7 linked regions of the Homo sapiens genome follow. The protein of the gene in region 1 purifies or fractionates together with the protein of each later gene. This does not show direct contact. Each region holds a gene or a part of one and is shown in the gene's direction. Other genes may lie near its edges.

Region 1 (3,500 bases):
GCTTTGGCTTATTCATATGCAAAGCTTCTTCATATATAAAGCCCATCTCCTAGAATAGTATTGAGGAGTAGGCATGACATGTATTATGTATCACATCTGATACATAATAAATGTCCAGTTAATTGTAGCTGCCATTGTCTGTATCATTTGTGTTTATTCTGTTCTCTTCCCCACATTAGGCTCTCAGGACTCTGAAACGCTCTCTGCAGCCTGTGGTAGAGGATGTCTCTCTGAGCTGGCATTTGCCTCCTGGTCTGTCTGCTAAAATGCTTTCCCCAGAACAGACTGTCATCTTTAGGGGTCAGAGATTAATCAGCTATGCCCAGCTGACCGGGAGGATGCCAGTGAGTTCCCATTCTTATTTGTTCCTCTAGTCAAAGAGCTACCACATGACCATTCCACTAAAGCTGGTAGGTGGATTTCAATCTCAGCCAGAGACGGCACTTGCCAAGTATAGCTAGCCTACTTCCTTCCCATCATTTCAGGTCTCCGGTTTCCTAGGCTACCTGATTCTTCATCAGATATTTTCATACATTGTTTTGGGTACCTGCCCCTGTTCTGATCCTTCCATGGATGATCAGAACATTACATGTTCCGTCATTTCTACTCATCTCTAATTTGCAGGCAGCAGAGACAACAGGAGAAGTATGCCTCAAATATACACTCCAGGGCAAGACTTTTGAGGATAAGGTGACATTTCCTCTACAACCCAAGCCTGATGTCAAGTGAGAATTCAGTTTTCCCTTCCTTCCTTCCTTCCTTCCTTCCTTCCTTCCTTCCTTCCTTCCTTCCTTCCTTCATTCCCTCCCTCCCTCCCTCCCTCCCTCCCTCCTTCCTTCCTTCTTTCCTCTGCCATCTTTGGGGATTAGATTTCTTCTCTTAATTCTGGGCTCCATTGTAATTGTTTTCCTACAATCATTTTTTATTTCTAAACCACCCAAGTCTTCTCTCTCCCCTTATCTGACTTTATCTTAACTCTTCTATTCCTAACTTTTAGGAGCCCTGAGAAACTGGTATATGGATGTCTTTCCCTACATTTCAGTACTTTTTTTTTTTTCCTTTCAGCCTCACCATTCACCGCCTTGCTGCCAAGTCCTTGCTCCAGACCAAGGACATGGGCCTCAGGGAGACTCCAGCAAGTGATAAAAAAGATGCATTGAACCTTAGCCTTGAGTCTGGTGTCATAAGCTCCTTCACAGCTTTCATTGCTATCAATAAGGAGCTCAACAAGCCGGTTCAGGGGCCTCTGGCTCATAGGGACGTCCCAAGGCCAATTCTGTTGGGTGCTTCTGCCCCATTGAAGATAAAATGCCAATCAGGTAATGAGTTTTATTCCATTCAAACTCATATAGAATAAAAGATTCTGACTATCTGAGCACATTATTTAAAGGAAAGGGCTGTGAAATGTTCTCAAATTGCTTTGTTTTCCTTATACCTCCACATCTAGGATTTCTGGTTAGTGTTAAATTTTTCTGTCCCAGGGAACTAGAATGCATCCCATTGGCAAGGAGATTTAAAATAATCCAAGAGAAAACAAAAAACAAACATTAAAATGTAGAAAGTGCAGGTAAACCCTGAGTAACCAAACTGCCTAATCTGAAGCTGATTTATCTTTTTTATTGAGATATAATTCAAATATCATACAATTCACCCATTTAAAGTGTACAGTCCAATGGGTTTTAGTATGTTCACAGAGTTGTGCAACCATTGATTGCCACAATCAATTTTAGAGCATTTTCATCACCTAAGAAATAAACTTCATAACTATTAACAGACATTTCCCATTTCTCTCCCTGACCCCACCTATCTTCTCCTCCACTCCCCTCTCCACCAGTCCCAGTAATCACTTACCTACTTTCTATCTCTATACATTTGCCTATCCTGTCTTTATATATTTGTTCTGGACTTATTTTCCTTCTTTGTTTTTGAGACAGGGTCTCACTCTGTTGCCGAGGCTGGAGTGCAGTGGCACAATCATGGCTTACTGCAGCCTCAACCTCTCAGGCTCAAGCAATCCTCCCACCTCAGCCTCCTGAGTGGCTGGGACTACAGGTGCATGCCACCATGCCCAGCTAATTTTTTTGTATTTTTCGTAGAGATGGGGTTTTGCCATTTTATCCAGGCTGTGGCTGGCTTATTTCACTTGACATAATGTTCTCCAAGTTCATCTATGTTGTTGCAAATAACAGAATTTTGTTCTTTTTTATGGCTGAATAATGTTACATTGTGTATATATAGTACATTTTCATCATTCATTCATCCACTGATGGATACCTAGGTTGATTCCATGACTTGGCTATTGTGAATAGTGCTGATATCTCTTTGATATTACTGATTTCTTTTCTTTTGGGTATATATCCAGCAGTGGGATTGCTGGATCATATAGTACCTCCATTTTTAACATTTTAAGGAGCCACAGTTTTCCACAATGGCTATACTAATTTACATTCTCACCATGGTGTGCAAGCATTCCCTTTTCCCCATATCCTCACCAGTACTTGTTATCTTTTGTCTTTTTGATGATAGCCATTCTGACAGGTATGAGGTGATATCTCATCGTGGTTTTGATTTGCAATTTCCTGATGATTGGTAATGCTGAACATTTTTTCATATACCTATTGGCCATTTGTATGTCTTCTTTTGAGAAGTGTCTACTCAAGTCTTTTGTCCATTTTTAAATAAGGTTATTTGCTTTCTTGGTTTTGAGTTAAATTCCTTCTGTACTTTGTATATATTAAACCCTTATCAGATGTTTGGTTTGCAAATATTTTCTCCCATTCCGTAGGTTGTTTCTTCACCCTGTTGATTGTTTTCTTTGCTATACACAAGAGGTAACCTCGTTTATCTATTTTTTGCTTTTGTAGCCTGTGCTTGTGAGGTCATATCCAAAAATCATTGCCCAGACCAATGTCATAGATATTTTCCCTTATGTTTTCTTCTAGTTGTTTCACAGTTTCACCTCTTACACTTAAGCCTTTAGTTCATTTGAGTTGGTTTTTCTATGTGATGAGAGATAAGGGTCTAATGTTATTCTTTCATATGTGTGTATCCAGTTTTCCCAATGCCATTTATTAAAGTGACTGTCTTTTACCTATTGTGTTCTTAGCACTTTTGTCAAAAATTAGTTGGCTGTAAATGTGTGGATTTATTTCTGGGCTCTCCATTTCTGTTGCATTGGTCAGTGTCTGTTTTTATGCAAGTACCATGCTGTTTTGGTTACTATAGCTTTGTAGTATATTTTGAAGTCAGATAGTATGATGCCTCCAGCATTTTGTTTGTGTGTGTGTGTGTGTGTGTGTGTGTGTGTGTTTTCTCAAGGTTACTTTGACTATGTTTTTATAATTCCATACAAATTTACGATTTTTTAATGCTGTGAAGGTTGTCTTTGATATTTTCATAGGTATTGCATTGAATCTGTAAATTGCTTTGGGTATTATGGCCATTTTAGCAATATTTATTCTTCCAATCCAAGAACATGAGATATCTTTACATTTATTTGT
Region 2 (3,500 bases), on another chromosome or scaffold:
CAATTTATAAATTTTGTAAAAGGTTACTTCTGAGGCAAATTTAAATTAACGTATTAGTTGGATTATTTATATTTTGATACTTTATAGTGGCATGGTATAGGATGAAGTTACATTATATGAAGTGGGACTATAAGAATTGAAACTGCATTTCGTGAACCACACCCTAAGTCAGTCATCACTTTATTTTGTACTCTACCCTGAGGTATCTATTTAGAATAAATGCTTAACACATCAGCACTAACACATCAAGTTATATAAGGTTTTAGATTATCTTTTCCCTATTCGTGTTTGTGAACATCTTTAGATATTTATTAGTTCAATATTGACATTATGAGAATAATGTTTTGTTTTCTCAGCAGTCTTGTGTTTTAGCCATTTATCAGTGTGATCAGCATGATTTAGGTATTAACTGACTAACAAAGCTTACACATTACCACCACCTCCCCCTCAAGCCCGTGTTGACCTTTTCAAGCATTTGCTCTACTTCAGTAGGCCATTTGAGTCTTCAAGTATGAAGAGAGTAAATAATTTATATCACTATGTAGTATAAATTGGTAAAAGTTTTTCAGAACTAGCTATCTGATTTTTTACAAAGTTATTGAAGTTAATCAGACAAATTGCTATCACATCTAGTTGACAGTGCTATATTTAGCAAATAATAAGTAATTCTTGAATGAGCTACTGAAAAAATAAACCACCTTTTTATGCCTTCAAACTCAGAACATATTAAAAAATAAATTTCATTAATCTTCAACACTTGATTCTAATTATCCCTTTTGTAGGCAGAATTGCAACAAGAATTTCTTCTGTATTATTTTTTCATAGATATATTCCATAGTATAATATGTTTGTAGGTTTTAATGGTAACTAGTTTACTTTGGCACTAAATTTGAGTGTATATCTAGCAAAAAAATTGGTGTGATAGAATGTATCAAACTGAATTGGCGTAACTTTTTTTGTATAACTGTCTACGTAATAGTAACAGGTTAGTATGAAAGCAATTAAAAATATTTATGGATAAAAATAATTGTTAAAAGTTTTCTACTTCTTTCAACTTAAGTGCTTTAAAAATGTTAAGCTGTTTAGACAATAACTCTTTTTTAGTGATCATATTAATGAGGACTTGGTATACAATGTAATCCTTTTAATGCTGATGAGTCCTCACAATGTTTAAACCATTATTTGTGAGACTCAACATGTTATGGCAAAATGATTTTTTGTTTGTTTTGTTTTCTTTTATGTGATACATCAGTTTTCAAAGCATATTTCTTAGGCTTCAGAGTCCAGCAGGTGGCTTTTTACATTAAAAAATTCATAAATTTTAAAATCCCATAAAATTTTATTTCAAATTCAAATTAACTAATTGAGAATGTCAACATTTTCACTGTCTCTATATTAACATTTATAATAGAACAAATGGTTGCATATAGAAATTATCTGCAACAGTCTAAATTAAGATTCTAAACAGGCATTACAGATGCTGGTAACTTTGGCAATTATCATTTTGTTTGGTGAACAGTAGTAAAACAGTGTGCGGTAAAAGTGTTTAGAGAGAGAGGATAAATAAATTGAACAGTTTTGCAATGCAAAGTGGTTTGTGGTGTTTTTGAGGATTTCTTGGCTCTCTCTTAACTGCTATTGTGAGCCTGGAGCAGATTTCCCCATTGCTAATGCCCTAGAAGTATTAATTCACTTTGATATGCTAATTAGAGGGCATTATGCAAGAAATGAGATTAAGTGGCAGCATGAAGCCATTTGCCTGTCAGTAAATTGAGAGCTTTAGCATCAGGAGGAGCTTTGTTTTTTTTTTTTTTTTTTTTTTGAGTTTCTCTTGGTTTTGCATATAAATAAAATTGATTGAAAGGTCTAGAGAAGCTTCCAGAACATTGGTGGATTCTTTTTTCCCCCTCCTATGATTATTTAAATGAAATGTTACAGGATTTTTCTGAATATTAATTGACCTAATTGGAGATACTGAATATAAAGTTTTTATTGTAATGTTTCTGTATAAAAATATACTAAAATTTTTGTGTCACCTAGTCTTTTTTTTCCTAAAACATAATTTCATTAACATGGCTAATGAACTGTTTATCACTTATCTCTTCTCAGAAGTGTAAACTTCTGTGTATGGGCTTGTGCACCAATGTCACTAAATTGAACTTCACAAGGATATTTTCTTCACTAGGGAAGGAAGGAAGAAGTTGAATTGGGCTTCAGAAAACTATATTAAATGAGTATTAACATTCTGACTTGAATCCATAAAAGCTGTAACAATTATAATTCATGGTTAAACTGCCCTTTATACAACCTGTGGAATTTATATTTCAGCATATATCTTATAGGTAAGATTACTGATGACATTTTGTGTGGAAGATGGAATTTCATACTGGATTCAGATTTTGTTGACTTTTGTGGCCTAAGCTAGGCCTCTGAATTTTTCTCTATAAAGCTATTTTGTGATATTTCTTATATTCTGGGGAGAAATACATGAATGAATACTAGGATTGCTGTGGGGAAAGGGAGGAAGACAGACCTTCTGTGCCTACAAGAAGGTTAAGGTTTACTCAAACATGGAACTTCTATCTATAAACCATGCATAGAGGATGGAATTGCAAAATCCTGGCCTAACTGTATTTGCTGGGTATGGTTAGAAGGAAGAGGGTTTGGGTAAGGCATTCCTACTGGGGTTTAGTTCAAGTGTCTGAATTCCACCACTGTAGCTGTGACTCTGGACCCAGTAAACCATATCTTCTCTTCAGAGCCATGTGGATTATTTAGTCACCACAGCTGCCATGCATGCATACTACCAAGGCAGGCATCTCTTCGGTGTGCATGTGTGATGCCTGTTAATGGTAATGTGAGTTACGAATGTGCACAGAAAGGAGGATGAGTTTCTCCTGAGACAAAAGTCCTGATTACATTTCGCTGTGAAGACGACTTTTAGTGTACCTACCACATTAGCTGCTTTTCTAAATGAAACACTTGGTTACTTTAAATTCTCACTCCCTTCTCTGATTCCCTGAACTAGTTAAATCAGTGAATCCTCATTAGTCTCTGATTACTTGCAAAATTTCATTTAAAACATATGAAGTTATTTTTGATTGAAAAGGGAACAAAAAGCTTTTGAAATTGCATGTTATTATTTAAACAAAGGTTTCTACAGGCTTTCAGATGTACTAAGCCCTGCAAATAATTTATAGAGGAATTATTGGGAAGGACTTATGAAATTCTTGAATGGCATTTGATGGGGAGGAAATCATTGCATTAAAAAATATATATATTTGAAATGGCAAGCTTAAATGTGCATCTTACCTTTACTATCCAAGTGTCCTTAAATGAGGAAGAATTGACTTAGGTGGTCTTACAAGTTTCATTTTTCTTTCTTTTCTCCTCCCACCATTGTTTTTTTTTAAAAAAAAAACTACAGGTGAAGGTTGTTGGAATTCATAGTCAGATATATCATTTTCAACTTGGAATAGGAACTAGAGCAGGAAATTGAT
Region 3 (4,299 bases), on another chromosome or scaffold:
CAGGCTGAGCATTTTCTAAACAATTTTCTTCCTCAAACTAGGCAGCCTTCCCCACGATTCGTTAAGAGTATTTAAAAATAATAAGGCATGGTTGGATTTTTTGAGCAAATGGGAGATGGTGGTAGACTAAAATTTCTACAGCCTTAGTCCAGTGGAGAGAGAAAACGATAAATGCATCACAGTTTGTGTCAAGACAAGATTCATTTTCCACACTTCATATGTGGGAAGAGGAAACTACATTTTAATTAGCACATTTTTAGGGAGGAGGGGGGGGATGAAGATGAGGCGGATGGCGTGAGGTATTTGAGGGGGACGAGTCTGCAGATGAGGAAAGGAAATGAAGTGGATTGTCGCCAGTGCCTTGGAAACGAAGGGGGATAAGGGTGGGGAACGAAGTTTGTTGTGTGTGTTAGGGTGGGGTTGGCCCAAGGGACCATGAATCATTAGAATGGCGCTCGGAGGGGTGTGCTTGCAAGTGTACTGGTGCAGGAGGGACGTGGAAGTCGTGGGTGGCAGAGAAAAGTGTGCACCGCTGGGAGGTCTATTTCAAGAATAGGTTGGGATGAGAAACATGTCTGGGCGAGGGGGGTGGGAGGCCCGGTGTCACCTGTGGATGGATCCACAGCCCTGCAATTGCGTGTTGCAAAGTTTGCCCGGCCCCGCATTCATTTTGAAGGTTCTTGGCGATGCCTCGACTTTTCGCCTCAAAGAAGTGAGCTCTCATAAGGTTCAGAGGCCGGGAGCCAAAGCGGGAGTGAAGACTCTCGAGGGGTCCAAATGAAGCAGAAGCGAGAGCCCCTGTCCTCCCCCTATGTGGAGGTGAAGCAGGGGTTGTGGGGACTAGGCGCCCGCGAAGGCAGCTGTGCTGAGAGCAAAGTCCAGGCCCCACGGGGGGCGTGCGGAGGTTGAACCTTTGCAGTGGCCTCCTACAGCCCCAGCAGCCAGCGTGGGCGGCCGAGGCTGACTCAAAGCGGCGGCTCAGCCTCGGGAGTAGGAGTAGGGGGCTCGCTCATTTAGGGCGGGAGACATTTCCGAGGCGCCCCTCCTCCCCTTCGCGGTCGGGTTTCTATCGGGGTCGTTTCCCCCTCTGGCCCTCCGGGGACGCCGCGGATTCGAGCTGCACAGTCAGAAGAGGACGTTGAAAAGGCGCCAGGCAGCCGCCCCGAACCAGGCCCTCCCGGCTGCCGGGCCTGCAGGCCCCCACCGCTGCGGCTTCACGGACTTAGAGCTTGAGGGCGCGGAGGGGGCTGCGGGGGCGGGACCAGGACTCCCGAGGGGCGCTCGGGGCGGGGCCAGAGAGAGCTCGGGGCTGCCAGAGGCGAGGTCTTGAGGAGGCGGGGCCGGGAGGCTTCGGAGCCCAAGAGGCGGGGCCAGAGGCGTAGGGGGCTGCGAGGGGCGGACCTTGGGGGCGTGACCGGGGGGGGCGCTTGGGGACCTAGGGGCGGGGCGTTAGGGGGCGGGACCAAGGGACGCTCGAGGGGCGCTCGGCTAGTCCCGCCAGAGCGCGAGCCGCCAGCCCGTAACGGTCGCCAGTGTGAGGGGCGGGAGGGAAAGAAGAGGGGTTTAAATTAGATTTTTTAAAACACAGAGCAAGCGCCAGAGGCGTCGGCATCCCAGGTGTCGCCGCTTCCTGCTGCACAGGGCTCGGCGTACAGGTCCCTCCCTCCTCAAGCCCCCTCCCCTTCTCCCGCCCTACCCTCTGGGGCTCTGCGGCGCTTAAGAGGCGGCCGCAGCGGCGGATCCGGCGGCTGCTGCAGCCCGGGCGGCTGCCGAGAAGGAGGGAGGGGAAACACAAAGCCGGCTACGCGCTGCGAGGTAATCTTGCGGGGAGAGGACGCGCCGTCGTCCCGCCTCTCTTCCGGGCCGGGACGCGGGCACCCGCGCGGGGGCTAGCACTGGGGACGCTACTGGGGGTCGCGCGGGGGTAGGGAGCGGCGGCTGGCGGGGCCAAGGGGACTTCTCATTGGCTGTCCCTGCGGCCTCAGGTGAACCCTTTTCCGGGGCGGGAGTGGGGACCACGGCCAGGCCAGAGGGGAGCGTACCTGCGGGGGAGGGTCCGGGGGTGGCGGTGCACGGCCTGCGGCGCCGCCGGGTGGGCCCGACGCTTCGCGCGTCTGCTGGTTTTCCCTAGGAAGGCGGGGAGTACCAAAATCAGTTACTGGCTGAAGCTTAGGTGACCCCGGGGACCTTAAGCCCTGAAGGTGCGCTCCAGGGGAGTGAGAGGTTCCTGCGCTTAGAAAAGGTGGAGGAAAGGGAGCGAATGTTGGTTTTAGTTGTTTTTCTCCTCATTTAAAAAAAATTTTTTTTGTTACAAGTTGAAAGTGTTCAGTCACCTTTCTCCTATAATCCGCTTCCCCACCCCCCAACACAGACACACACAAACACACCGCCCCTACAAACGTATACATGTTAGGTTGAGCTTCCTGCTAGGGGTGACAAGCGAAGTTGGCAGCAGGTCTGGTGTGCTGGTGTTTGGGGCACGTCCAGCCTCTTTGGAGGTAGGCTATTATAGCTTAGGCAAGACCACAGACAGGTAGCATAATCTGGGCCTCTTTTAAAATGGCAAGAACGGCTTCAGGTGAACTTTTTTGTTGCAGAGATTTAATTGCAAGTAGGTGCCGGTTGAAAATGGGAGCGCAAGGAAAACCACTAATTTCCTTGGCACATGTGCTGTTGCAATTAACCTGGTAGAGTGTTAAGGAATTTAACTTAGCCAAGAGGCTTTGAGGGAGGATTATATGCAAGTTTGGGGAAGGAATTGATAAGATTCTGGGGTATGGGACTAGCTACATACACGTGCGTGCAAGTTTACGTTAAATTATGTAGCATTTTAGATTTAGCAGTATTAAATGGTTGCTTTTCTTGGAATGGCTTCTGACTACATAGTGCAGGGTACGTTCCTAATTTTGGCTTTAGAAGACTCCTAGTGAGAGTGTTTTTAAAGATTGAAAAAATAAGAGTACAGTGCAATTTGTCGTTTTCAAGTTAAATACTTGACTGTTAAAAATATTTGTGTAATTAAGTTATGGGACCAACCCATTTATAGGGTTAAGTTACTTAACCCTATAAATAACTGGAACATTATAAATGGAGCATTTGTAGAAAGTTTTTATATCGAAGTCTCCATTATATTGTACTTGCATTATAACTTATTTTCCTTTGCTTAAATGGAGCAGATTAACTTTATGGAAGGAGGACCAGGATAAAATAAAGGCAGCTACATTTAACTCTTCATCTTTCTGAAGAGTTCAGTCTGTGATAACACTTAAGGTGCCCAGAAGTGCTGGCATGTTGGTAATAGTTTTTAAAGAAGAAACGGGTGTATCTATTTTGAATGTTAAACATAATTTGAAGGAGTTCTTGAGATAGTTGGTTATGAGACATTCAATGTATTGCTACATTTTACATATATGATATCAGGAAATGTTTGGTGAACATTTGACATAGTTGATCATATGACACTTGGGAAATATTTTGCATGATAGAAGGATAGTATTTTCGTAATGTAAGTTTCAAGCATTGACTGAAAGGGAGAAAATTACACACTTTGCTGTCTCACCCCTTTCTTCAATATTATGCTGGCATGAATGTGAATTCTGCCTAATTATGTTTAAAGTGTAGATCTGGCCTTTGTAAAACCAGAATGTCTTTTGAGACCAAGAGAACATAACATCAGCAACAGCCCAACTCCTACACACAATCCTAAAACCTAGATACAGGGTGGTGCCCAACTTCTGAGGTTTTGAGGCTTCCTGAAGTAGGCCTATCATGTCTGAGTGCTTTTGTCACATGTAAGCCTACAGGTGGTTAGCTGGTTAATCTCTCCCATTTCAAAGCAGTTGGTTAGCAGTACTGGGTGGCATGTATGCATGTCATCAGAGTATAAGAAGTGTTTGAGGGAAGAAATCACATAAAAGCATAGAAACCTGGCTCTGAACAAACTGTGTAGCGTGTTGGGGAACAGTCACATCAGAACTTTAGCTTAACCGAGTTGTTATATGTAAAGTGCTTAGAATGGGGTTTGTATTCAGTGCTTTTTGTGTTTATCATTATCAGTATGTAAAGTGACATATCTTTTTGAAGGCTGTTAGGTCATGCTACCCAGCATGTGAAGACTCAGCAAATATTTGTAATAGCCAATATTTATTTGCCTAACCTCTGTGCCAGGCACTAAGAGTTTTATATGATTTAATTTACTTAGTCCTTCCAACAACCCAGTGGCTAAACAGAGGCATGGAGAGGTTAAGTATCTTCCCAAGGTGACACAGGTTGGTTCTGAAGCCAGAGTCTGGCCCAAGA
Region 4 (3,500 bases), on another chromosome or scaffold:
ATTACAGGTGCCCACCACCATGCCCAGCTAATTTTTTGTATTTTTAGTAGAGACGGGGTTTGACTCTGTTGGCCAGGCTGGTCTCAAACTGCTGACCTCAGGCTATCCACTTGCCTGAGTCTCCCAAAGTGCTGGGATTACAGGAATGAGCCACCGTGCCCGGCTCATCCCGGTATAGTTTTTACTAGTTAAGATTGTATCCTGACTTCTTACATTCCATGTTATAACATGGACATTTTATGACACCATTAAAAACACTTCTTAGACATTATGAATGTATTTTATATAGATTGACACTGTTTCAGATGCTTTCAGACACTGGGAGTATGGTGGTGAATAAAATAGCCCTTGCCAACAAAGGGAGACAGATTCACTCATATAATTACAAAACTGAGGGCTCTGGAAGGAAATCCTGGGTACTCCACTGAGGAATTTGCTCTAGACTTAGCAGCGAAGTGGAGTCAGGAAGGCCTCCCTAAGGAAGTCGTGTTTGCTCTCTGAAGCCTAAGTATGGCATCACCACAGCCCAGCCTGTTCTCCAATGAATGGCCCGCCCATGTTGGCCGTGTTGGTTTTAGATCTTGGGTCTAAAAGTTTGAGCCTGGGAGATCCGAACATGATTTTAATATGCAAAGAGGGTTCCAAGACCAAGGCAGTGCTTTGCAAAGACAACTTTGGAAATATAAGACTAAACAGCAGCGTACTTTACATGGTTCCAAACTTTGCTACTTATTCTCTCTGACAGCAAGACATGGGATCCATCTGGTGTTTGTACCACAACCCTCCCACATGCACTCTTGTCACACTGTGGGATCCTCTGGGTAGTGGATCCTGGAAGCAGACAGGTTGGGCTCAGCTGGATGCCTCCTGGGTGCCCCTTCCCCAAGTCCCCGGAGTACTGTGCCAGTCCCTTAGCCTGAGGCTGTCTCCCCATCTTTGTAGCCTCACTCTCTATGTGGAAGTAGCCTGCAATGGGCTCCTGGGGGCCGGGAAGGGAAGCATGATTGCAGCCCCTGACCCTGAGAAGATGTTCCAGCTGAGCCGGGCTGAGCTAGCTGTGTTCCACCGGGATGTCCACATGCTCCTGGTGGATCTGGAGCTGCTGCTGGGCATAGCCAAGGTACTTGACACCCCCTGTACCCCCTGCTACCCTCTAGAGCCCTGCTCCAAGAAGGTTGTTCTTTGGGTCAGATAAATGGGACTCTGGGAATCCAGAGTAGGACGAGGGTTTCCACCTGCTTGAGGGTTGAGAGAATTTTCCTATGTGAAGGGGAGGAGGGAGACGGTGCTGAGCAGGGGGACCAGCAGGGAAAAAGGGTTGGGGGTCAGGGGAGCTCTGCTGAGAGCCCTGAGATCAGTGGAGCCTAGGTCTGGAAGCTGTGCTTGAAAAAGGGATTAAGGGGCAGAACCCTGCTGCAGGGCCTCGGGAAGGACAACCAGCGCAGCTTCCAGGCCCTGTACACAGCCAATCAGATGGTGAACGTGTGTGACCCTGCCCAGCCCGAGACCTTCCCAGTGGCCCAGGCCCTGGCCTCCAGGTTCTTTGGCCAACATGGGGGTGAAAGCCAACACACCATTCATGCCACAGGGCACTGCCACATTGATACAGGTAGGACAGCAGCTGGTTGGGCTGGCTGGGGAAGCAGGAGTGCCCTTGAAGACCTGGATGTGCCCTAGAAGCACTGTGTGATGCTCAGCAAGTTCTTGCTCCTCTTGGACCTGCGTTTTCCCCGTCTGTAAAACGGGGCCGGGGGGCTGGACTGTGGGCTCTGCTTGCTTTGGATTCACTTTTTTTTTTTTTGAGACGGAGTCTCACTCTTGTCACCCAGGGTGGAGTGCAATGGTGTGATCTCGGCTCACTGCAACCTCTGCCTCCCGGGTTCAGGCGATTCTCTTGCCTCAGCCTCCTTAGTAGCTGGGATTACAGGCACCCACCACAATGCCTGGTTAATTTTTGTATTTTTAGTAGAGACGGGGTTTCACCACGTTGGCCAGGCTGGTCTCAAACTCCTGACCTCAGGTGATCCGCCTGCCTTGGCCTCCCAAAGTGCTGGGATTACAGGCATGACCCACCGTGCCCAGCCTCATTTATTCTTTCAACAAAATCTGATGCCTCATGGGGCCCATGCTAGATATTGAGGGTAGGATTACAGAGACAGATTCAGCAGGCAGAGTTGGTGTCACAATGGTGGGGAGTCTGAGGCACTGGAGAGCACAGGAGAGGTACTTACTCCAGCTGGGTTGGGGGATTCCAGAGAGGCTTCCTGGACAAGTTTGCAGTGTCTGAGTTTTACGGGAAATCCACATTTTTAACAAGCTCCTGAAGGTATTGATTCTGATGCAGCCGAAGTTTTGGGATCACAGAACAAGGGCTTTCTCTGCTGTGCCAAGATGTAGGGTAAGGTGTGAGAGGTTCTGGGCTGGTAAGGGAGGAACTGCAGCCTGGGAGTCAGGAGAGGCTGTAGCACCTCTGGTAGGACAGCTGGCTCCATCCTGGGAGCCATGCCTCTGTTCCCAGGTATACATCAAGTTTGTGCAGGGGCAGGGTAGTCCCTGCTACTTCTCGTAGGATCCTCTAGGGGATGTCTAATTCCCCAAGAGGACTGAGGCTATTCTGGGGCCTGGAGCCTCCATTTCCTGACCTGTATAATTGGCCTCATAGCACTGCCGCCTCCTTTCCCCAGCCCCTCCTCCCACCTCGCTGGAGTGAAGTGAAGTGACCACTTAGGAGGGACACCACAGGGCTTTCCAGGGTGAAGGGCCTGGGATGGGAGGGGGGCTAGGTGACCCTCTGGAGTCCCAGCCCAGGCCTGGTCAGCCTTGCTGCTCCCTCTGTCCTCCACCTCACTCCCCGTATAGCCTGGCTTTGGCCCTTCAAAGAGACTGTGAGGAAATGTGCCCGGAGCTGGGTGACCGCCCTGCAGCTCATGGAGCGGAACCCTGAGTTCATCTTTGCCTGCTCCCAGGTCAGAGGGACAGCTGTGAGGGAGGAGGGAAGCACGTGGCCCTCCCTGGAGCTCCACAGGCCCTGAAGGCTTCCCAGGCCTGGGGTCAGGGCTGCTCCTCACCCTCAGCCACACACTGAGTCCCATATGCTCAGTCCTGGGTGGGGCCCTTGTCACTCTGGTCCCAGCTCCCTTCAACCTGCCCACAGGCGCAGCAGCTGGAATGGGTGAAGAGCCGCTACCCTGGCCTGTACTCCCGCATCCAGGAGTTTGCGTGCCGTGGGCAGTTTGTGCCTGTGGGGGGCACCTGGGTGGAGATGGTAAGTGCACTGGGCACTCCTCAGCCTTGAACTGTATGACAACAGCCTTCCCTCAGGTAGCCCCGCCCTCCCGGCTTTGCTGGTGAGTTTCCACGGGCCACTCATCCCCGCTGTGTGGCAGGGCTGGCTCATTAGTCCCTGGGATCTCAAGGCCTGGGACTTCAAGGGGGAGGAGAGCCTCCAGCGCTGTGACAAGTTGCATGGCCTAGTCCTGGGCACCCCCTCAGGCAGATGG
Region 5 (3,500 bases), on another chromosome or scaffold:
TGAGGGTGAAGGAAGTGGCTGCAGGCCCTGGGAAGTACCATCTTGCATCCGTGTGCAGCACTGAGTGGATACCTCATGGTTCTGTCTTGTGTACACTGTTCAGGAGGACATGTAGAGTGGACATATCACATAGAAGAAGGTCAGTCTGGAAACTGTTAGGAGAAGCACTCAAGGGCTGAGAGGCATGGTCCTTGGTGGAAAGAGCCAGCAGGCCTGGTGCTGGCGGTGCCCTGCTCGTGACAGTGTGCAAAGTCTGGAGCCTGGCCTGTTCCCGCCCTTGGCAGATGGTAGCTCCTTGTTTTGGATTATTAGCCCCTGCCGGTTTAGTTACTGTTTCTGGAAGATTCACATAGAAGGCAGTGTGGTAATTCAGTCAACGTGTTGTCTGGCATGTGGTATAAAACTCCTGTTTAAAGCTCTGATTCTGAGGCCATGCCTCAGGGACTTGAGAAGGGGACAGAGCAGCTTATTTTATTTTATTATTTATTTTATTTAATTTTAATTTTATTTTATTTTGAGATAGGGTCTCACTTTTTCACCCAGGCTGGAGTGCAGTGGCACGATCTCGGCCCACTGCAGCCGGGAGCTTCTGGGCTCAAGTAATCTTCCCGCCACAGCCCCCAAAGTAGCTGGGATTACAGGCACGTGTCATCACACCCAGCTAATTGTACTGTTTGCCGTCTGCGATTGACGCTGGAATGATTGGCTGTTTTAGTCGGGTTCTCAGGGTGGCAGGGAGCAGGCTGACTTCAAGTTGGGTGGGTGGTGAGATAGGTGGTTCAGGATCATGCAGGGATAAAGAAAACAGGAGTCTATGGGATTCTTGGGACCACTGTATTGTTGCTGGGCCTCTGGGCAGATGGAACCATGGTTTGTGCTCTGGCAGGATCCAGTTCTGCACCAGGGCTCTTGGCCTTCCGCTTCAATTAGGTGGTTGCCCTCCACTGTCTGTTCCATCTGTACGCTCCCCTCACAGTGGGGGCTCACCCAGCCTTACCTGCCCTGTACTCTCCCTTTTCCAGCACCCACCTCAGAGAGAGTGCCTGTGCTCTTTCCCCTCACACCACCTACCAGGCGCTGACCTTCGGGCTGGGGGCTGGCCTTGGGTGTTGCAGGGCTACCTGGCCCAGGGAGTGGTGCTTGGGGAGGAATGAGCTTCTGACACCTGCACAAGGAAGGCCCCCTTTGAGCAGGGCCTGCCAGTGGGGTTGGGTCACTCAAAGGGGCTGTGGATTGGTAGGTACTATGATCACAGTTTCCAGAACATAATGCCTGAGTGAGCGCATGTGTTTTGTTACATGTTCTCTCAGACATTTTATGAAGGTTTGTACATTTTTTTGCATTAAAAATGTTAGGAATTTAACTTGACAAGAAAAAGGAGCATAAGGCCGGGTGCAGTGGTTCACGCCTGTAATCCCAGCACTTTGGGAGGCCAAGGTGGGTGGATCACCTGAGGTCGGGAATTCGAGTCCAGCCTGAACAACATGGAGAAACCCTGTCTCTACTAAAAATACAAAAAATTAGCCGGGTGTGGTGGTGCATGCCTGTAATCCCAGCTACTTGGGAGGCTGAGGCAGGAGAATCACTTGAACCCAGGAGGTGGAGGTTATGGTGAGCTGAGATCGCGCCATTGCACTCCAGCCTGGGCAACAAGAGCGAAACTCCATCTCAAAAAAAAAAAAAAAAGTTTAATAAACATTAAATTGCTAAACTTTACGTTCTTCTAAATTTAGTTACGTATTTGAGCATACTTTTTTTTCCCCCACGAAACAGGGGCTTGCTCTGTTGCCCAGGCTGGAGTGCAGTGGTGCAATCTTGGCTCCCTGCAACCTCTGCCTCCCGGGTTCAGGCAATTCTCCTGCCTCAGCCTACTGAGTAGCTGGGATTACAGGTGCCCACCACCACGCCTGGCTAATTTTTGTATTTTTAGTAGAGATGGAGTTTTACCATGTTGGCCAGGCTGGTCTCGAACTCCTGACCTCAGATGAGCTGCCCACTGTTGCCTTTCAAAGTTCCAGGATTACAGGCATGAACCACTGTGGCTGGCCTTTTTTTTCCAATTTTTTGTTATGGTAAAATACACGTAACAAAATTTACCATCTTAACCATTTTCAGTGTGCAGTTCAGTGGTGGTAAGTTCATTCATACTTTTGTACAGCCATCACCACCATCTGTCTCCAGAACCCTTCATCTTGTAAAACTGAAACTCTATACCCATTAAACACTGCCTCCCCATCTCCCCTCCCTGAAGCCCCTGGCAACCACCATTCTACTTCCTGTCTCTGAATTTCGCTACTATAGGGACTTCATACCAGTGGAATTAGGTAGTATTTGTCTTTTTGTGACCAGCTTAGCTCATTTACCATAATGTCCTTAAGGTTCATCTATGTTGTAGTGTGTGTCAGAATTTCCTTCCTTTTTAAGGCTGAATACTCCATTGTGTGGATATACTGAATTTTGTTTATCCATCCCTCAACAGACACTTGAGTTCCTTCTACCTTTTGACTATTTTGAATAATAAAACTGTGAACCTGAGTGTGTAAATACTTCTCCGAGATCCTACTTTCAATTTTTTTGGATATAGATCTAGAAGTGGGATTGCTGGATCATACTGGAATTCTGTTTTTAATTTTTTAGGGAACCTCCATCCGATTTTTCGCAGCAACTGTACTGTTTTATATTCCTTTTAATTTAATTTATTTTTTATTTTTCCAAGGACTCAATAAGGAGAGAGTATCAGTTTACATTCCTACCAACAGTACAGAGGTTCCAGTTTCTCCGTATCTTACCCAACACTTATTTTCTTATGTGTTGTTGCTTTTTTTAATAGCAGCCATCCTAATGGATTTGAGGTGGCATCTTACTGTCATTTTGATTTGTATTTCCCTAATAATTAGTGATGTGGAGCATCTTTTCACATGTTCATCGGCCATTTACATGTCTTTGGAGAAATATCTCTTCAAGTCCTTTGCCCCTTTTTGAATTGGGTTTCTTACATGCATACGTGTGTGCGTGTGTGTGCGTGTGTGTGTGTGTGTGTGTGTGTGTTTTAAAGAGACAGGGTCTCATGATGTTGTCCAGGCTGGTCTCCAACTCCTGGGCTCAAGTAATCCAGTAATACTCCTGCCTCAGCCTCCCAAGGAGCTGGGACTTAAAGACATGGGCCCCTGTGCCTGGCTATGTTCATACGTTTTTACATATTTTTTAAGCTATATTGTGTTATGCTTTTAGTTGGCATTTTAGTGATTTTTAAAACATTTATATAATCCACACATTTCTCGTTTTAAAAATTTAAGGTCTCATACACTTTTGTGAGTCCAGTTTTTTTCTTTTTCTTTTTTTTTGAGACAGAGTTTTGCTCTTGTTGCTCAGGCTGGAGTGCGATGGCATGATCTTGGCTCACCACAACCTCCACCTCCTGGGTTCAAGCAATTCTCCTGCCTCAGCCTCCCAAGTAGCTGGGATTACAGGCATGTGCCACCCCGCCTGGCTAATTTTGT
Region 6 (3,500 bases), on another chromosome or scaffold:
TGCAGCTGAGTTACAAGCCCAGGAAGGATTGTCTAATGATGGAGAAACAATGGTAAATGTGCCACATATTCATGCAAGGTGAGGAATTTGATGTATTAAAGTATTACTTAGAATGGGACATTGAAGGCCATTTAAGAATGAAAACGCTCATTTTATAAAAATGAGGAAATCAGTAAAAAGGACATGAGTTCCTTGCCATCTCATTGATCATCACACTGAAATAAACTCATTGAAAATTATTCAAAGACATCATGACAGATACTTCCTAAATAAGGAAGAAAATGTTGATTTCCTAACCTGCAGATTTTTGTAAACATTGGTTTTGGATGTGAACTTATCAAGACCCTGCTGTGTAAGTTTAATAATCCATGTATGGGTTGAGTATCCCTAATCTGAAAATCTGAAATCTGAAATGCTCCAAAATTCAAAACTTTGAGCCCTGACACGACACTGAAAGGAAATGTTCATTGGAGCACTTCAGATTTTTGAATTAGAGATACTCAACTAGTAATATTGCAAATATTTGGAAGTCCAAAAATTCCAAAATACTTCTGGTCCCAGGCATTTTGGATAAGGGATATACTCAGTCTGTAATACACTAAGTGTTCTTTGTTAAATTATTAGGTTTTTGTTAGATACAAGGGAATAATGAAATTATTTTGTTTTTCTTGAATTCATCTTTAAGATTTTAAATTCATTAGAAGAATTCATTATAAGGTAATCATCAGCATTTTGTTTTTCTTTTCCAGAATTTATAGAAGAAAATTTCCTAGCAGTTCTTTAAAAAGAACTTAGAAACCCAAAGGTTTTTGAATCTGTAGATTTTCCTTTTGGCATTATTTTTTTCCTTAAATTTCTTTTTTCTTTTTTCCTTGAGAACAGCCTGTGAGACAAGAAGAAAAAGGAAGATTTAGTGTTGTTTCTTGTTAAGAATGGTTTGGCTGGGCACGGTGGCTCATGCCTGTAATCCCAGCACTGGGAGTCCGAGGCAGGCGGATCACGAGGTCAAGCGATCGAGACCATCCTGGCCAACATGGTGAAACCCTGTCTCTACTAAAAATACAAAAATTAGCTGGGTGTGGTGGCACACACCTGTAGTCCCAGCTACTCGGGAGACTGAGGCAGGAGAATCACTTGAACCCGGGAGGCAGTGGTTGCAGTGAGCCAAGATGGCACCCCTGCACTCCAGCCTGGCAACAGAGCGAGACTCCATCTCAAGAAAACAAAACACAACAAGAATGGTTTAATTCTTGTGATATTTCTGATATATCGAAGGGATGATTTGATTTGAGAATTCCATAGTTGCTCCTAAAAGGAACTTGTGAAAATATAAAAAACATCAATTTTCTGTTCATTACTTCCTGTTTTGTCTTTAGGGTGTACAACTATGAGCCTTTGACACAGCTCAAGAATGTCAGAGCAAATTACTATGGAAAATACATTGCTCTAAGAGGGACAGTGGTTCGTGTCAGTAATATAAAGCCTCTTTGCACCAAGATGGCTTTTCTTTGTGCTGCATGTGGAGAAATTCAGAGCTTTCCTCTTCCAGATGGAAAATACAGTCTTCCCACAAAGGTAATACGTTCTTTAACTGCTTCTTTATTTATCTTGGTAAAGAAGGCAAATCAGAATACAGAAAACATTTCCCAGTGTTTCTGAACACAGAGCTTATTTTTATTTTTTATTTTCAATTTTCTGCTTTTATATTATGAAATACTTCAGGGTAAGAAAAATACAGAAATAAATAAAACATTCCACTACTCATCACCCCGAATTTACATTTTTCAGCTCCGGACACATTTTTTAATGATATAAAGCATTACTGGCACAATTAGTGTCTGTTTTTTACCTATACCATTCCCAGGGATGATCATTATCCTGAAGTTATTATAATATGCATCCCTTCCATTCATATTTCTGTTGACTTCTAGGTATACACACCAAGTTTTTTTTCCCCTTTATTTCTTCTACTATTTAGAAGTGATGGGTTTTTTAAATCTTTATTAGCCTTTATTAAACTGGATTTTAAAACTATAGAAAAGTGCAGAGAATAATGTAATTAACATTTATCTACTCTATGATTTGGCAAATATTAATATTATTTTAGCTTAATTTGTAACAAAAATATGGTTATATAAAGTTGAAGTCTTTCTGTTCTCAGTTTTATTCCCTTTATTTGCTCCCTAGATGCAACCACTATGCTGAAATTGGCATGTATTCTTCAAGTTTACATTTTTATTCTTGACTACATGTGTAGAGTTAGTTTTTTGTATTGTGTTTACGTAAATGGTATCCTGAATGTAACACGCAGCTGTTTTTTTATTTGGTTATTTTGTAGTTCTACCTATTTTAATACATATCAAATTCTTTCATTTTTACTATTGTGGAGTGTTGCTTTAAATAAATAGCCACAATTTATCCATTTTCCTGGAGGTAGACAATTGTGCTCTTTCCAGTTTTTTATAAGAACAAATGATACTGCAGAGAACATTCTTGTACATGTCTCCTTAGCAGAGGAATACTAAGTTGTAGGCTGTACTTTTTTTTTTTTTTTTTTTTTTTTTTGAGACGGAGTCTCGCTCTGTTGCCCGGGCTGGAGTGCAGTGGCGCGATCTTGGCTCACCGCAACCTCCGCCTCCTGGGTTCAAGCAGTTCTCCTGCCTCAGCCTCTCGAGTAGCTGGGACTACAGGCACGCGCCACCATGCCTGGCTAATTTTTGTATTTTTGGTAGAGACAAGGTTTCACTATGTTGGCCAGGCTGTTCTCAAACTCCTGACCTGGTGATCCGCCTGCCTCAGCCTCCCAGAGTGCTGGGATTGGCCGGCTGTACTTATTTTTAACTGTATTAGATGTTACCAAATTACTTTCCAGAGTATTGTTCCCAACTTAAATCTTTGCTGGTAGTGTTAAGTAGTTACCATTTCTCTGTCTTTTCATTAACACTTGGTATTGTTAGACTTGTACATTTTTGACAGTTTGTTAGGTATAAATAATACTGCATTTATAATGTGAATTTTTCTGATTTCTGTTGTGGTTGAGCATCTTTTCATATCTTTACTGGCCATTCAGTTTCTTTATCGAATTTTCTATTTATATCTAATGTTCATTTTCCTGTTTATTGGTTTATTCTTTAATTTTGTTTTTTAGAGATGGGGTCTCATTCTGTTGCCCAGGCTGGAGTGTAGTGACATGATCATAGCTCATTACAACCTTGAACTCCTGGGCTCAGGTGATCTTCCCATCTCAGCTTCCCACGTAGTTGGGACTACAGGTGCCAGCCACTGTGCCTGGTTCTATTAGTTTATTGATAGGAGTTCTTTATACATTCTAGATACTAATTATTGTTGATTATATACATTAGATATTTTCTCCCAGTCTTTGGTTTGTCTTTTAACTTTGTGGGTTTTTTTGTTGTACAGTTTTACATTTTGACATGATCAAATTGTTGTCTTTTCCTCCCTAATTTGTATATTTTATGCCCTGCTTAAGAAGCCGTTCT
Region 7 (2,741 bases), on another chromosome or scaffold:
TCCTCCCCACTCCACTCTGTGGCTGCTGCAGGCCTGCAGGGAGTCGGGGTCAGTGGTTCGTTGCTGGCTGGCTGGTGTTGGCCAGCCCAGGAGTGAAGGCCATGACCCCTTCATTCCCTAACCAGAGCCGGCTGTACTGCGCGTGTGGTGGCAGGGGGCCTGGGAGCGGTTGCAGGATGAAGACCAAGGTCTCAAGCCAGACCAGACGAGTGCAACGTTTTTGCACATCTTGCTGTTTCAAGTGACTGCTTTGAGGTCCTGCACTCCTGGGTGGACAGGCCAGACTCCTTCAGTCACAGGCAGGCATCCCTTGGAGAAGGAAAGGTTGCAGGTCTACATATCTTGGCTTGGGGCAGGCTCCAGAGACTGCCCGGTGTGTGTGTGCCCATATGTCAGAGCCCCCGGGGGAGACTGAAAGGGAATCGGAACTGACCACCTTCAAAAAGCCAAGAAGTAATTGGTTCTTCCTTGCACTCAGCAAGCAGGGAATTCCATTCCCAACCCACCTACCCCAGGACCTGACTTGGGTCAAGAGATGGTAGGACAATTGAGCGGCCCACAGCTGAATTAGATGGATCAAGCTGCCATATCTGAGGTGGCAACATGGATGTGCAGGGCCAGGGAGGCAGAGGAGGAGGAGGGCGGGACTCCCTGCCTGCCCTTCAGGTTGATGCTGAGGGGCCTCCAGGAGACTTGGGGCCTAAGAGGAAAGGAGAAAGGAGGCACTTCAGGCAGACAGGGACCCTCTCTTCATTGGAGCAGGCCCCTCTCAAACCAGGCATCCCCTCCCAGGGAAACAGGACACTTGGCAGGAGGTGCCAAAGATGAGCCAAGACCTGGCCAGCAGATGGACTGTGTGGGTGAGCATGAGTGAATGAGTGAGTGGCAAAGCCAGGCAGAAGCTCTAGGCACAGGCAGGGCAGGAGAGAGGTGGGGACAGATCAGGCAGGGATGCTGCAAGCCCTCCCGTGTCCTAGCTTCTCCCCGCCTGCCTCCCCTGTAGAGCCGGGACAGAAGGCACTGTGGAGTTGGGGGCATGCTGGCTGAGCATGAGTGTGTGCAGGCGTGGGTACGGGCTCATGAAGAGCTGTGTAGTCCACACACATCGTCAGGGTGGCCGTGCTTCGGGCCTAAAGGGCTTCCCGCAGCAGGGAGACGGTGCTCTCACACCAGAGTCTGCCAGCCAGGGGGCTTTCCCTCCCCTGGCTGAGCCTTCCTGTGACCTGAGCTGCCCCCTGCCCATCCAGGGAGCAGGCGGGGATCCCCCTGCGGAAGGACACAAGTGAACCCAGAATGGTGCCTCAAGGCAGGCAGCCTGGCCCAGATGGTGCCCCCACTCCCCAGACCCAACTCTAACCAGGCCTGGCCCTCTCCTGTGTCTTGCAGAACTTCAGCGAGAGGGAAGCATCGAGACTCTGAGTAACAGCTCAGGCTCCACCAGCGGCAGCATACCAAGAAACTTTGATGGCTACCGATCTCCGCTGCCCACCAATGAGAGCCAGCCCCTCAGCCTCTTCCCGACTGGCTTCCCGTAGGTACCAGCAACCTGCTTCTGACTGGCCAGCCCCCTCCCCTGCTGGAGGAGGGGAGAAGCCCCGCTCTGGTCCTACCCTTCAGTCTCTGCTCTTCCTTCATCAACCACCTTCCCCAAGCTTAGTGACAGCAGCCGCCCATCCTACCTGGATGGAGAAGAGACCCTTCTCCAAGCACCTCAGCGCACTTGCCCTCTGCCACACCTGTCGGTGGAGGCTGTGGCCAGGAGAGACTGTAGAAGCTCGGTCCCTGTGTATGTTTGCATATGACATCCTGCATTGGATCCGCTTTTGTATTTTTTAACCATACCCACGGTGGGGCGGGTGGGGGGAGCCTGGAACAGTGACCAGATCTGGGGGCCTGAGTGGGGACAGAGTTGATCGTCCACCTGGCCATTTTGACCCTGAGTGGACAGTCACAGCCTCAGCTCATGTCTGGCTGTGACACACACTGCCCCCAGCTTCCCTTGGTCAGCCCCACTCCAGCACGGGGTGAACGGAGGCCCAGAGTACTAGGGAAGGAGGAAGGGAGGACATGCCTCTTCTTCCTCCTTTCTTTCCCCATCTGTTCATGGGAAGAGTTTGTCTTTCTTATCTTTAAGCCCCTTTACCCTGGTCCTGTACTGATCAGTGAAGGAAACCGTGGTTACTGAGGCCCTGTTGAAAAGTGCACGTCTTGTCCAATAAATCACGCTGCAGTTGGTGTCCATCCCTGAGTTGCTGGGGTAAGGGTCCTCTCCAAATGCTGAGCAGAGTCCTATGGCCTGAGTGCCCAGGATCCCAACACCCCCTTTCATGTGCAACTTGGGGGCAGAAGGAGTCAGTGGAGGATTGGAATGGGAAGAACTTTTGTCCTGGAATTTGGATGGGGCCTGATTTAAGAAGCCCATTCTCTAAGCATCTTGCCTGTTACCAGAGGCAATGAGTTCTTGGGGTGCCACAGGGTTGGACCCTCCTCCCTGGGGATCAGGGCTTGCCATGTGCTGGTGGGTTGCTGTCAAGGGGAGAGTCTGGCAAAGCCTCATCTGGGGGGCACCTTGTTGTAATTGCCTCTTTTTAACTCAGAAGATGGAAGGGTGGTCAGGTGAAGGTGGGTATCTCATGAAACCTGGCCGGAACCCTCAGATGACACGTTCCTGATTTTGTCCCCCCGCCCCACCACCACCACTTCCGGACCTAAAGTAAGTGGCAACAGAGACAGGAACAGGG

What was found.
Region 2: the proteins of VWA5A (region 1) and PBX3 purify together in Homo sapiens (affinity purification with mass spectrometry; 2 studies listed by BioGRID and IntAct, with this or other methods). This does not show direct contact.
Region 3: the proteins of VWA5A (region 1) and ADD3 purify together in Homo sapiens (affinity purification with mass spectrometry; 2 studies listed by BioGRID and IntAct, with this or other methods). This does not show direct contact.
Region 4: the proteins of VWA5A (region 1) and MAN2C1 purify together in Homo sapiens (affinity purification with mass spectrometry; 2 studies listed by BioGRID and IntAct, with this or other methods). This does not show direct contact.
Region 5: the proteins of VWA5A (region 1) and PKNOX1 purify together in Homo sapiens (affinity purification with mass spectrometry; 2 studies listed by BioGRID and IntAct, with this or other methods). This does not show direct contact.
Region 6: the proteins of VWA5A (region 1) and MCM8 purify together in Homo sapiens (affinity purification with mass spectrometry; 2 studies listed by BioGRID and IntAct, with this or other methods). This does not show direct contact.
Region 7: the proteins of VWA5A (region 1) and BCAS3 purify together in Homo sapiens (affinity purification with mass spectrometry; 2 studies listed by BioGRID and IntAct, with this or other methods). This does not show direct contact.

Annotation. Positions count from the first base shown.
Region 1 is NC_000011.10:124,135,950-124,139,449, forward strand, and holds part of VWA5A (von Willebrand factor A domain-containing protein 5A), read left to right. Parts: intron 1-179; coding exon 180-344; intron 345-624; coding exon 625-725; intron 726-1,065; coding exon 1,066-1,319; intron 1,320-3,500. UniProt on the Homo sapiens protein: May play a role in tumorigenesis as a tumor suppressor. Altered expression of this protein and disruption of the molecular pathway it is involved in, may contribute directly to or modify tumorigenesis.
Region 2 is NC_000009.12:125,753,873-125,757,372, forward strand, and holds part of PBX3 (pre-B-cell leukemia transcription factor 3), read left to right. Parts: intron 1-3,500. UniProt on the Homo sapiens protein: Transcriptional activator that binds the sequence 5'-ATCAATCAA-3'.
Region 3 is NC_000010.11:110,006,485-110,010,783, forward strand, and holds the start of ADD3 (gamma-adducin), read left to right. Parts: upstream 1-1,499; 5' UTR 1,500-1,815; exon of another isoform or gene 1,816-2,498; intron 2,499-4,299. UniProt on the Homo sapiens protein: Membrane-cytoskeleton-associated protein that promotes the assembly of the spectrin-actin network. Plays a role in actin filament capping. Binds to calmodulin.
Region 4 is NC_000015.10:75,362,108-75,365,607, reverse strand, and holds part of MAN2C1 (alpha-mannosidase 2C1), read left to right. Parts: intron 1-942; coding exon 943-1,120; intron 1,121-1,419; coding exon 1,420-1,609; intron 1,610-2,859; coding exon 2,860-2,966; intron 2,967-3,154; coding exon 3,155-3,265; intron 3,266-3,500. UniProt on the Homo sapiens protein: Cleaves alpha 1,2-, alpha 1,3-, and alpha 1,6-linked mannose residues on cytoplasmic free oligosaccharides generated by N-glycoprotein degradation pathways.
Region 5 is NC_000021.9:42,981,062-42,984,561, forward strand, and holds part of PKNOX1 (homeobox protein PKNOX1), read left to right. Parts: intron 1-3,500. UniProt on the Homo sapiens protein: Activates transcription in the presence of PBX1A and HOXA1.
Region 6 is NC_000020.11:5,957,152-5,960,651, forward strand, and holds part of MCM8 (DNA helicase MCM8), read left to right. Parts: coding exon 1-78; intron 79-1,376; coding exon 1,377-1,575; intron 1,576-3,500. UniProt on the Homo sapiens protein: Component of the MCM8-MCM9 complex, a complex involved in the repair of double-stranded DNA breaks (DBSs) and DNA interstrand cross-links (ICLs) by homologous recombination (HR).
Region 7 is NC_000017.11:61,390,591-61,393,331, forward strand, and holds the end of BCAS3 (BCAS3 microtubule associated cell migration factor), read left to right. Parts: intron 1-1,386; coding exon 1,387-1,535; 3' UTR 1,536-2,241; downstream 2,242-2,741. UniProt on the Homo sapiens protein: Plays a role in angiogenesis. Participates in the regulation of cell polarity and directional endothelial cell migration by mediating both the activation and recruitment of CDC42 and the reorganization of the actin cytoskeleton at the cell leading edge.